3 separate regions of the Homo sapiens genome follow, and all the other regions are linked to region 3. A link means that fine-mapping ties the variant in region 3 to the expression of a gene that starts in the linked region. Tissue or cell type: whole blood. Region 3 holds a variant in brackets; each other region holds the start of a gene. Each region is shown on its reference strand, or each on the opposite one.

Region 1 (4,134 bases), not on the chromosome of region 3:
ACTTCGGGAGGCCAACGTGGGTGAATCACTTGAGGTCAGGAGTTTGAGACCAGCCCGGCCAACATGGTGAAATCCCATCTCTACTAAAAATACAAAAATTAGCCAGGCATGGTGGCACATGCCTGTAATCCCAGCTACTGGGGAGGCTGAGGCAGGAGGATTGCTTGAACCTGGGATATGGAGGTTGCAGTGAGCCGAGATCACACCACTGCACTCCAGCCTGGGTGACAGAGTGAGACTCTGTTTCAAAAACAAAACAAAACAAAAAATGAACAAAAAACCATAAATAAATAAATAAATAACCAGTAGAGTACTGGCCAATCTAAGAGGATCTTGGCAATGTCCTAAAGACCTGGTGGGCCAGAGGTCAACCCATGAACTCATGGAATATGAGGAAGCTGAGGATCCTGGAGGGAAGGCAGGGGAAATCGGGGGGTCCTGCCAGTACTCGCTCAGCCACTCTGTTAGGGAAGAGTTTGAATATACTGATAACCAGGTGGCCAGAGTCACATGACTGGGTGTCTGTCCTGACTCAAGCATCCCACACGTGGGAATCCCAGGATGAGCTGCCTCATAGGCCATGGGAAGCCCGGGCTACTGTCTGGGAGGTCCCTGGTGTGCTGCTCTATGCAGTTCCCCATCTAGTGCCCCAGCCCCTTGATTAGGGATGGGTGTTTGTGGACTGACTATTGGAGGCTGAGGCCCAGGGTCCCTGCATGCTCACCTGCCCGCAGCCGAGGCAGCAGGTGAGACAGGGCCTGCAGTTGCTTGTGCTGGGCAACCCGCTCCCGTAGGGGCTCTAGAGTCTGTAAGGCCTGGGACATGCCCTGGAGCAACCCACGGGCCTGGCTCAGGGCCTCCCGGGTTCCCTGCACCACCTCAATGGCCTGGGCCAGCTGCCACACACCAGTCTGCACGCCTTCCAGGTATGACTGCATCACTGACTGTGGAAAGATGGAGCCATGAGGCTGGGCCAGCCCTGCAGCACAGTCCCAGCACCCGCACCCCCTGCCCCATGCCCACCTTGAGGCGCGATTCCAGGGAGCAGGTACGCTGCACCTCGCGGCTGCGGTACTGGCCTAGCCTGGCCAGCTGCTCCGGCCGGTAGAAGATGCCTGAGGCCCACTTGAGCGCTGCACCCCGGGCCAGCTGCTCTGCCCGCTCCTGCTCTGGCCACTCAGGTCCTGGGAAGGAAGAGCCTGGGCAGCCGTGTAGTCAGGGAGGAGGGCCCAACGACCCCAGTCCCAGCTTTCTTATTTATTTATTTATTTATTTATTTGTTTGTTTATTTGTTTATTGAGATGGAGTCTCGCTCTGTTGCCCAGGCTGGAGTGCAGTGGTGCAATCTCGGGTCCCTGTAACCTCCGCCTCCCGGGTTCAAGCGATTCTCCTGCCTCAGTCTCCCGAGGAGCTGGGATTACAGGCGCGTGCCATCACGCCCAGCTAGTTTTTGTATTTTTAGTAGAGACGGGGTTTCACTATGTTGGCCAGGTTGGTTTGGAGCTCCTGACCTCAGGTCATCTGCCCATCTTGACCTCCCAAAGTGTTGGGATTACAGGCGTGAGCCACTGCGCCCAGCCAGTCCCATCTTTGTTGCCATCATTCCTCCCCTAGTCCACCCAAAAGGTTCATACCAGGGGACAACGCCGGCTGCATCTCATCCTTGGCTGCTGAGTCCATTGTGGGCCTGGAGGAGCCAGAGCTGAGGTGGGCCCGGGGCAAGCAGGCAGAGTAGATGCCCCTGTGAGCTGCTGCCTCTGTCTAAGCCCTTCTGAGAGGAGGAAGGAGGTTCTTCCCGGCCCCCTCGGGAAGTGAGAGGGAGCGGGTGTGATGCGGAGGGCACCTGGGAGGCTTTGCCTGCTAGGTTTCCCAGTCGTGCCCCTGCAGATGTCAAGCGAGACAGAGTGGGCACAGGCCTCCACTGGACCCTGGTCCTGCTCTGAGCTGCACAGGACAGTTTGGTACAGAACTTACCAGATTTGATCAGGCGTCCAGTTCTCCCTCCAAAAATGACCTTGGCCTTGAGAACAGCCCTCTCCCCAATGCAGCTGGGCACGCCTGCCACTTGCTCACAGGGCCTGGGCAACTCCAGCTGACTCCAGCGTGCAGCTGAATTCCTCTCCCCAAGGAAGTCTCTCTCCCACTCCCCACCCAGAAGCCCCTTCTTCCCACCGAGGCTCCTCCCTCCCCAAGGCCATCAACAGAAAGGAAGGAAGCTGAGTCTCTGGCATTTTATTCCCAACAGGAAAGAGTGTCTGCACAGAGGGTGGGGACAGCTGGGCGACACTTCCCTGAGGGGCGGGGGGGTGGGGTGTACTTGTACTCAACCAGTCTTGACCAGCCTACCCAGAACCTCTTAGTGCTCAGGAGAGGAGATAGGGATTTGCTAGACTTGGCCTCAACCTGGGGTGGTGGGCAGAGTGTGCAGATATGGATGCAGACGACATCAACAGCACAGGATGAAAACTGTGTTGGCCAGCCTCTGAGGAGGATGTGTACCTCTGCGGAGGAGTGAGAGGTGGCAGGCTCTTGTGAAGAGGGGTGTGGTGGGGGGTGGTAGGAGAGGGTCATGAAAGCTGTGTTTATCTTTTTTGTTTTAGACAGGGTCTTGATCTGTCACCAAGGCTGGAGTACAGTGGCACCACCATAGCTCACTGCAGCCTTCTGGGCTCAAGCGATCTGCCTGCCTCAGCCTCCCAAAGTGTTGGGAGATTACAGGCGTGAGTCACCGCAACTGGGCAGCTGTGTTTATCTTGAGAGTTATAGGGAGCCAGGGAAGGGACTATAAGGTGGTAATTATTTAGTGGATGTTCAGTCCACCACCCAAATCCACCCTTCAGGACAGAAGTGCTCATTCTCCAGCTGCCAGGAGTGTAGGCTACTGAGATCACACCACTGAGTCTCTCAGTCAATATTGGGGTGCAAAAGCATGGTACCATCGTGTGAACATGAACCCTTCAGAAGTGCTACCCCAATTTCAGAGATCCTAGTGGGATAGGCTGAGGCCTATAATATAATTGCATCTGCTCAATTCTGCTTGTCTTAATCCCTTAAAGGTGTGGATCCTGACCAGGTGCGGTGGCTCACACCGGTCATCCCAGCATTCTGGGAGGCTGAGGTGGGAGGATCTCTTGAGCCCACGAGTTCAAGACTAGCCTGGGCAATATAGTGAGACCCACATCTCTAAAAAACTAAAAATAAATGAGCCGGGCATGGTGGTGCATGCCTGTGGTCCCAGCTACTTGGGAGGCTGAGGTGGGAGAATCGCTTGGGCCCAGGAAGCTGAGACGGCATTGATCTTGCCACTGCACTCCGGCCTGGGCAACAGAGTGAGACCCTGTCTCAAAAAAAAAAAGTGTGGATCCCCAACAAACTTGCTGCAAAACCCTATCTCGAGTCCCATTTCCCAGAGGACCTGATCTAAAAGAAACAATAATAAATAGTAACAATGTTAAAAGTTACAAAATGACCGTATCACACATTCCTGCATGCCAGGAATGACTGAGTGCTTTACTGATATTTACACATAGGTAAACACGTTTGCATTGGCTGAAGTGTTCATAACCCCATAGTCTCTGAGCACTGTACTGTGAGGACAAGACGAGCGAAAGATGAGGCTAGGACCATGGGTGGAACAAGGTGGACAAGGTAGATATAGTTAGTGCTTGCTGTTTGGCAGGAAGTGAGGGATAGGAATAGATGGGGTGACCCCAAGACAGTAGGGCAGCCTTTAGGAACAGGTTTGATGTGGCAGTAAAATGAGTTTGAAATATATAAAAGAATAAATAAAGAGAAAAAAATGGAAAAGGAACAGGTTTGAGGGAGCAGATTGGATTAGTCAGGTAGTGTGGTCTCCTCTCCCAAGATGGGGACTAGGCAGAGTTAGTGATGTTGGGGCAGATTGGCAAGGAAAGTTCCGATGGCGTCCCCTTCTCTACTGCCAGGGCGGCCCACTGACGCCCTTCTCATTCCTCCCCAACTTCATCCCAACTCCCCGGTCTACCCAGGTAGTTTTCGTCTTATTCGGAGGCTGGACATTTGCTACTGGTCCCTGAAGTTTTGCGGCTGCACCCACAGACAGCAATAGCGCCACGTTCCCTGGAAGGCGCACGGGACGGAAGCGGAAGCAGTAAC
Region 2 (4,134 bases), not on the chromosome of region 3:
AGGAATTAACCGACAGAGATTTATATGATGATGTTACAACCTCCTTTTCCATATAAGCCCATCAGACAGCCTAGAAATAAAACACTTACTAAAAACAGTTCAGAGAAGTCTATCTGTGAAACTGTCGGTATGATGTAATTCTAAAGAAAGTTAGGGGGGGACCCCCAGACTATATGGAAGGCTCAGTCTGCTTTTTAGTGCTAGTTTCACAACAAGCAAAATAACCATAGTGTCTCTTGAGAAATAAGCACTAATTTTAGAACTAATAAGTACTAATTTTAGAACTCCATATATTAATGGTTTATAGCCTCTCCTTTCTCAGTGGCAGGACTGAGAAATAGGAGCTTGCGGTATGAAATCAGAATACCTGAATTTCAGTCTCACCTCCATCACATATTAGCCATGTGACCTTGGGCGAGTTGTTTAACCTCTCTTTGCCTCAGTTTCATCACTGGCAAAATGTCGAAACTAACAGTAGACTCCCTCAAAGGGATGGTGTGAAAATTAATGACAACATATTTAAACCATTTAGAATAGTACCTGGCACTTCGTGTTTTAAAGTGATAGAAATATACCATACTTGCCTTATATCCTCTATTGGTAAATTCCATGTTAAGGGCAAAATTTCTTTTTTATATCGCACCAGGGTACCTAGCACAGTATGTAACAAATACTAGACGCTCAAAAAAATGACATGCATTATATTTGAGGTAAATAAATTGAATGCACAAGAAAATAAAGGTATTTTAAAAATGTAAGTGCAATTAATATAAATTAAAGGGCTCTCGACATATCATTTGCATATCTTCAATTTTTCCTTATAATTAGTTGCTGGCTATCTTACGATTTTATCTTTTTCTTGCCCTCTTCAAAGCATGTAGTTTGGTGTAATGCACATTATAGCCCTCAGAATTGCTGGCCTTCTGACAAGCTAGCTGTTTGGATATTGTGAGGGATGAGGTTGCTGCAGCAAAAAGTGGGTTACACGACAGCACAGCCTCGCTGCTGGAGATGAAAAACCAATAATCCCAGAAAACAGCGCATAGGGTAGGCTGGGCCAGCCGAGGATTATGTGAAGGTTCGTTGGGACCCTCCGGAGGCCAGTGGGGTACTGCAAAGGTGAGTGCCCCAGTGCCAGGGGTCGTGAGCCCGGAGCCCTGCGGGGGACGGCTGGTAGGCCCTGCTGGATGAGTCATTCTCCCCACCCCGGGCACGTGCTGGTGGCGGCATCCACCCGGACCCCGCCTTCCCCCCACCCAACCCCCGGCGCGGAACGCGAGCGGTGAGCGGCCCCAGCGCCCCCAAGGCGCCCCCTCCGGGCCGCCTCCTCCGGGCGGGCACTGTCCTTGCCGCAGTCGGCCGCTGGCGCAGTCCCCGCGCCGCAGTGCCGGGCGCTCGTGGGGGGCGCCCACGGGCACCTGGGCCGTCTGCTCATCGGAGCCGTCCGCCGTCCTCCCGCATTCCCACGGCGCCCCACGCCCGCGCGCCCGTCGCCGGTCACCCGCCGCCCGCGGAGCCGCGAGGGCGTCTCCTGGAGGCGCAAGAGGACTGGGCGGGGCGGGGCGCGCCCACCGGCCGGCCCAGGGCACCTCGCGCGGGTGCACACGCCGCAGCCCCCCGGGGCGGGTGGGTGTGCTCCGGCCGCGCGCGCCGCCGCCGCCGCCGCCGCCGCCGCCGCCTCCTCAGCCTGCCGCTCCGCCCGCGCCGCCTGCTGCCGGCGCTCGGCCCAGCACGCCGGCTCTCGGGCTGCCGTGGGCTGCGCGGGGCCCGCGGTGTGTAGAGTCCGCCGCCCCGGAGCCGCGTCCCGCACCCGGACGGTCCCGGTAAGCGGGGGCGGGGGCGGCGGGGACCGGGCCGTCACCTGAGGGGCGGGTCTGCGGCCGCGGACAGTCCTCCGGGACTCTGAGGTGCTTGTGTGGGAGCCGCCTCCAAGGTGGCCCCCCTGTGTCATTGGATGAACCCCAAGTAGCTGCTGCCTCTACGCCTTGGGGGAGTCCCTGAGGTGCTGTGGGGAGCCGCCCCCATAAAGACCCCCTGTGGGAATGGACTCCCGCGGCGCTGTCTGCATTTGCTGCCATAGGGAGCCCCAGCGTGGAGGGGACTGGCCCCAGAGAGCCCTTCTGTGTCACTGTGGGAGCAGGCACAAGGGTGGTCTCTGGAGCTGGCTCAATGGAAGACCACCTGGGAACATAGGGGAGCCGCAGGAACCTCGAGGTGGTGGAGCCCCCAGAGGGCTCCCTAGAAAAGGAGGACCTGAGACTGTGCCCTAGAACTGTGGGAAGCAACCTCTGACTGGGGAGGGGGATCCTCCCATGGGATCCATGAGTGACTTCCCACGGCTCCAAGGACTTTGGCCTCCACCGGGATCCCTGTAGGGTTCCATGTGCCCTTACTTGTATCCCCACACCGTGGCCCAGAGGTGGGGGCCTTCTAGGGCTGCAGCCTCTTTCCATTCCTCCTCTTTCCCCATTCGGATTTTTCTTCTCCATGGTAGCCCAGTTGCTCCACGCTGCATTTTAGTGGAGACAGAAACTGCTGCGAGAGCACAGGGCCCTAAGCCGAGGATGAGGACCAGTGAGGCCTCTAAAGCAAAGATAGGAGATTTGAGCCCCTAGGTTTGACCGTGCGGAAGGAAGCAGTAAGATCAGGTGGAATAACTGACTTTGGCAGGTCCTGGAGGGAAAGGCCTTTGAAGGAAGGAATAAAGGATGTATGGGATTGTTGAGCACCAGTACGCTAGGCAGTATACTAGGTATGTTTAAACATCTCATATAACTCTTACAACAGCTTTGTGAAATTATCCCCTTTTAAACATTGAGACTCAGAGAGGTTTAGCAATTTGCCCAAGGTCACAAAGCTGATGAAAAACATAATCATAAAATGTTTTTCAAATTTTATTTGGGAAAAAGTACTAAGGAGCAGCAGAAGAAAGAATAGATATTTGTTAATAAGTTGCATTAAGGTGCCTGCCGAGCATAGGGTTTTGCAGTGGTACAAGCTCAGTAAATGTGATGATTAAATAAGTGGATGAGGACAGTTTAACTGGCCATGAGATTGCTGCAGGAACTGATTTCCACAGAATCCCCAGATTTCAGGGTGTGGCTTCCTTCACTGGCAGTCCCACTGTCATGATGCCTTGGGGTGGCTCTGGACCTAATTGAGGCCTCTGGGTGTGGTTTTTGACAGGGCTTTCTCTGGGGATCTAGGGGGACCCTTCTGCGGATGGAGTGTCCCAAGACCACCCTACCTGCTACCGAATACTCGAAGGAGAGAAAGGAGAGACAGGATCACTTTTAGGAAGCACGATCCACACTGTCCTTGTGACCCTCTGACTACATGCACCGGTGGACAATGGTCCACAGATAGCACTCAGGACACTTTTGCCCAAGAGTGCCTCTGCATGAGGAGGAGGAGGACAGGAAAGGTGCAGAGCCAAGGAAGGCTCACTGGGAGTCTGTTAGGGGGAGCGCAAAGGGTCTGCGCCAGACATAGTGTTGCCTCCTCATCTCGCCCCCTCGTTGTTTTCATTCTAGCTGAATCCCAAGAGTTCAACTTTGAGCTCCAAGGATGGATTCTGGTTTCTTGTCCAAAAACGGAGTGGTGAGAGGGCCAAGCAATGATATTCATTAGAGCCATTCTGGAAGGGTTTTCCTGCTCCCCTTCCCTGCTTTCTTCCACACAGTCAAACCTAGTTAAATCCTCCTTGAACAGAAGTGGCTTCCTTTGGCTCCTGGAATTACATAGTGAGGAGAGAGACCAAGCTAGTGGGAAAACAGAACAACATAGTTTACCAGTTGTTAGATTTTTTTTCTTTTAACTCAGTGATGCTACCTTGCGCGCAACTCAGTGGAGTAAAGCCCGACAAAGGTTTTTGTTGGTTAGGACCTCCCCATTGTAAAGTTGTTTATAATCCCCCTTTCAGTTCAAACCCATCTGATCAGCTTAACAGATCAGAATAAATAGGTAGGCATATATTTAAAGAAAGTCAGAAGGACCAAACCTGAAGATATGATCTTTGTTCCAGATCATTGATTTGTCATTGAGGTTTTATTCCTAAATTGGTCTTTTGTTGAGGGTGCTTATTATCACACCCACTCATGACCCTGGAAAAATCACTAAATGGATCCAGGCTCT
Region 3 (4,134 bases):
CAAAAAAATAGAAACCCAGTTATGACAGCTAGCATTGAAGAACATGGGAAAATGGACAGCAACAATTACTTTTACATAGGGAAGAAAATGAACTAGGATTCCTATCTCACATAATACACTAAAATCGTTTCAAGGTAAATTTATGACATAAATGTTAAAAGCAAAACTATAAAAGTTTTGAAAGGCAATGTAGTAGACTATTACCATGTATAGGGAAAACTTTCTTAAAGAGTCGAAAAACACATTCGCAGAAATGATTAACCAATTGGTCTGAAAATTGAGGTACAATGAAGACGTGAAAAGATGATACACATCGGAATAAAATATTTACAACACAGATCACTGAGCAAGTATTTTTTAAAACATATAAAAGAGTCCCAATATATAGATACAAAAAAGACAATTCGATGGAGAAGTGAACAAATTACTTCAATGGGTACTTCATGCAAGAGAAAAATAAAATATGAAAAAGATGCTCAATCTCATTAGTAAGCAGGGGAATTCCAATCAAAGCCACAATTATATTACAGTGGCAAGAAGCTTAAAGATTGACAATATCAAGTGCCTAGGACATTGTGGGACAGAGGAGTAGTGAGTACTTTCTGTGCCTAACACACAGGAGGGCGGTTGTGTAACCAGTGTTACAAAGGGTGTTCCTTGACCATGAAAAGCAAGTCCAACAAAAGAGTGAAGAAGCCAAGTGGTTTTAAGTGCAAATCAAAGTCCCTCAAGTTAAAGCAAAACCAGTCACACTGACTATATTTTCAATGTATTCATTTAGTGCACCTAAAATCCATTCAGTGTCCAAAACTCTGATGATCAAATTAATTCAAATAACAATATCACAAAATCATAGTAATGTGCAAACCAGCTGCCATCTATTTTTGTAGCCATAGTGAGAGATTATATTTTAGATGATGATAAAATAGTCACTAAAATGATTTTTAAATTGTTAAACTATTACAAGCATAGTCAGTACTTATTATGCTTTATTATGATCTGAAAGTCACACAAGTTTGTAAACTATCATTATTATAAGAACTGTTTTAAAACAGATGACAGGGGTTGTGTTTTTTCGTTATTGTTGTTTTGTTTTCTGTCTTTTAAGACATTTTCTGTGAAGCAATAGATTCATGAAGGAGAGAGAACAGCATTGATAGGAAGTAACTAAAACTTCATTTCATTCAGCTTGTGCACATGTACCCTAAAACTTAAAGTATAATAAAAAAAAGTTAATAGATCCTCCATGAGCTTTAATATCCAATGTCCTCATTGTGAAGTTGCCTCAATTACGTGTGCTACAATTTGCAAACCAGTTAAAAATAAAAATGATAAATTGGCAACTAAGTTCAGCCAGTCCTGGAATTCTAAAATTCTAGGATACACCATTGATTACTGGTAAAAATACGAAGATTCTCCATCATCTTGAATTTTATAATTCTGACAGCTTTATGGAAGGAACATATTCTGCCATTGTCCTGGGCATCACTCTACAAGCTTTCTTGCTTGTAAGTAGATCTGAGCCAAGTGCCAGGGCTGCAGAAGCAAGTTCTAGGGCTTTGGAGTCAGACAGCATTGGATTCCCACTGAATTAAGTACTGTGCTTCTGCGCCTAGCCTCAGGTTTACTATGTATAAATGAAGTCTAAATAACCACCTGGTGGGCTAGTGCAAGTATTAAGCACAATAATGCCTCTGAAAGGCCCAGGACATTCTTGGAACAGAGAAGCTCTGTTTCTGCTCAGCCTGTCTCCATTCCTGCCTGATTAGCTCAGGACGCCACAGAGAGCAGGAGGGGCAGCCACATAACAGGTTGGGGGGTGTGTCCATTGGACCAGCTTGCATATCATCTCACCTCTGACTGCACTGTCACTGGCCCTCATGTGCTCTCCCTTCTTTGTCTGCTAAGACCCTCCCAATGGTTTGCTGTTGACATCCAACCTCAGCTCTGTTCCCTAGACTCCGATGCACATCTCTCCTCTCCAGAACCTGCCTCTATGGAGTGGCATTAAACATCTGCCATCCTGAGCCCTCGCTGGTATGGTCCCAAGACCTCCCACAAATGTCACAAGTACCACCAGATACCTGAAACATTCTTTCCCCAACTCTTGTCAGAATGTCCCAACCATAGGCTCTCAGCTTCAGTTCTGCCTGCCTGGTGACATGCCGGCCTGAGGCAGTAGGACAGCCTTGCATGTTTGGCAATAGAGCTGTGCTTCTCTGAATGATTTAGGAATGATCTGGGTATATTAAAAAACTAAAAATCCAAGGTGTCTATTATGATACATGATTGCCAAATCTGCCACTCTTTATCTCCCAGTTGTTCCTTGTCCCATTACAATTTGGTTTAGAATTAACCCATTCCCTCCAACCGTTCTTGCTGGCTTGTAATTGTAATATGTATGCAATGGACACAAAATCTGAAGCATCTCTTCCTGAGTCCCGGTCTGCCTCTAACTTGCTTTGTAAATAGTCACTCTGTCTGTTT[A/G]AAGTGTCTCCACCCTCTTCCTTCTATCTTCTGTTAAGCTACAGGAATGCTGTTTTCTAAAATGCCATCCTTTATGGAAAGATCATGACATTCCTTTCCATAAAATCCTAAAATGTCAAACATAAGAATCATTTGGTTCTTTGTAATACAGCTCTAGCTTTACCTCCCACTATTTTTTCAAAACCTAATATGTACCTTATATTTATTTCTTCATGTATCTTACATTACAAACATATAGACCCATGTGCACTTTTCCAAATTGATCATATTCTTTCTTTTTACAGTAATGTTTTCTGGAAACAATCTCAAATTTAGAGATAAGTTTCAAGAACACTACTAAAAAGTTTGTACCTTCAAATCATTGATGGCAGGTTGTGGACATAATGCTCAATCTATCCCAAACTAGAGTACATTTTCTAAAAACAAATAAATTACCCAAAAACATATTCCATAAGTCTATCAAAATACAAAACTAAAATTGTTATATGACTGCCATTCAATCCACAAACCCAATTCAAGTATCGTCATTTGGTCCAAAATATCCTTTATAGCAAAGGGATCAAGTTTAGAAACATGCATTGCTTTTAGTTATAATTTCTCTTTAGTCTTCTTCAACCTGAAAAAGTTACTCAGTATCTCCTTGACTTTCATGTTCTTGACAGGTTTGAAGAATACAGGCCAGGTGTTTTAGGAATTTCTCCCAATTTGGATTTGCCTGGTGTCTCCTCATGATTTGCTGTGCTGTGATTTGTCTTGCTGTGTCCTATCAAGTGAAACACAGTTTCGATTTGTTTCATTACTAGTGATGTTGACTTTGATTGCTTAAAGTGGTAAGTGTCATGTTTCTTCACTGTAAAATTGTTTTTTTCCTTTTTAATTGAGGGTTTTATGGGTAGCTGCTTTGAGAGACTATGCAAATATCCCATGCCTCATTAAAGTTATAATTTGTTCACTTATTTATTGTCTATATCACTATGAACTATTGGTTCCCTATTAAATTCAGTGGATTACAATCCATTACTATACTGATGTATTTTAATGTTTAAATTCTTCTAGATTTGAACAGTGGGACCCTCTTCAAGTTTTCTTCTGTGTCCTTTTAATGTGTTCCTTTTCAAACCTTAACAACTTTCTTACTTTATCACAGCAAACTATTCCAAGCTCATGTCATATTTTCTCTGTTCTAGCTTTGAAATCAACCATTATTCCAAAGATCCATGGTTCCCATTTGGTGGAAATGGTATTGCAAAACCAAGAGCTGGATCTAGGTGTACTCATTGCTATTGAATGTTGCTGTTTCTACTATTTCTTGGAGACAGAGCTAGGGCATATCATTGTATAAATACCTACACATAGGTGATAATATGGACAAATCTACAGATAGCTTCGATTTCAATTCAGAACCATAGTTTTAGTTTGGTTCCTTTATATTTCTAACATCCTTCTCCAACAATAAGAAACTAGCTCTCATTATTCTTAATATTTATTTGATTAATCTCCTTGGCCATAACCAATCTCCCTCTCCTGCACTGATGCCTCTTTAATCCCAGTTGGCCCAGACACCTCACATCAGGCTGCATGGCACACATCCAGGTCTTGTTGCAAGCTAAAAGCCTACCAAGAAAAAGGACAACACTTACCCTATAT

The links. PIP is the estimated chance that this variant, and not a neighbour inherited with it, causes the effect. A credible set is the group of variants that fine-mapping cannot tell apart.
Region 1: EXOC3L1 starts here. The variant in region 3 is the best candidate, but not a certain one, in a credible set for the expression of EXOC3L1 in whole blood (TOPMed, PIP 0.68).
Region 2: PHF24 starts here. The variant in region 3 is the best candidate, but not a certain one, in a credible set for the expression of PHF24 in whole blood (TOPMed, PIP 0.61).

What each region holds. Positions count from the first base shown.
Region 1 is chr16:67,187,997-67,192,130 of GRCh38, forward strand. It overlaps EXOC3L1 (exocyst complex component 3 like 1), which reads right to left and starts at 2,140. Exons shown (of 14, transcript NM_178516.4): 1 at 1,975-2,140; 2 at 1,635-1,687; 3 at 1,024-1,184; 4 at 725-944. The coding sequence starts at 1,680. RefSeq lists enhancers at 3,882-4,134, 3,981-4,120.
Region 2 is chr9:34,956,579-34,960,712 of GRCh38, forward strand. It overlaps PHF24 (PHD finger protein 24), which reads left to right and starts at 1,707. Exons shown (of 8, transcript NM_015297.3): 1 at 1,707-1,823. RefSeq lists an enhancer at 266-405 and a silencer at 1,755-1,834.
Region 3 is chr7:50,250,171-50,254,304 of GRCh38, forward strand. No RefSeq gene overlaps it. Among named protein-coding and RNA genes, the nearest start is that of IKZF1, 52 kb to the right of the region's middle. The variant A/G (reference allele first, on the strand shown) is at 2,488.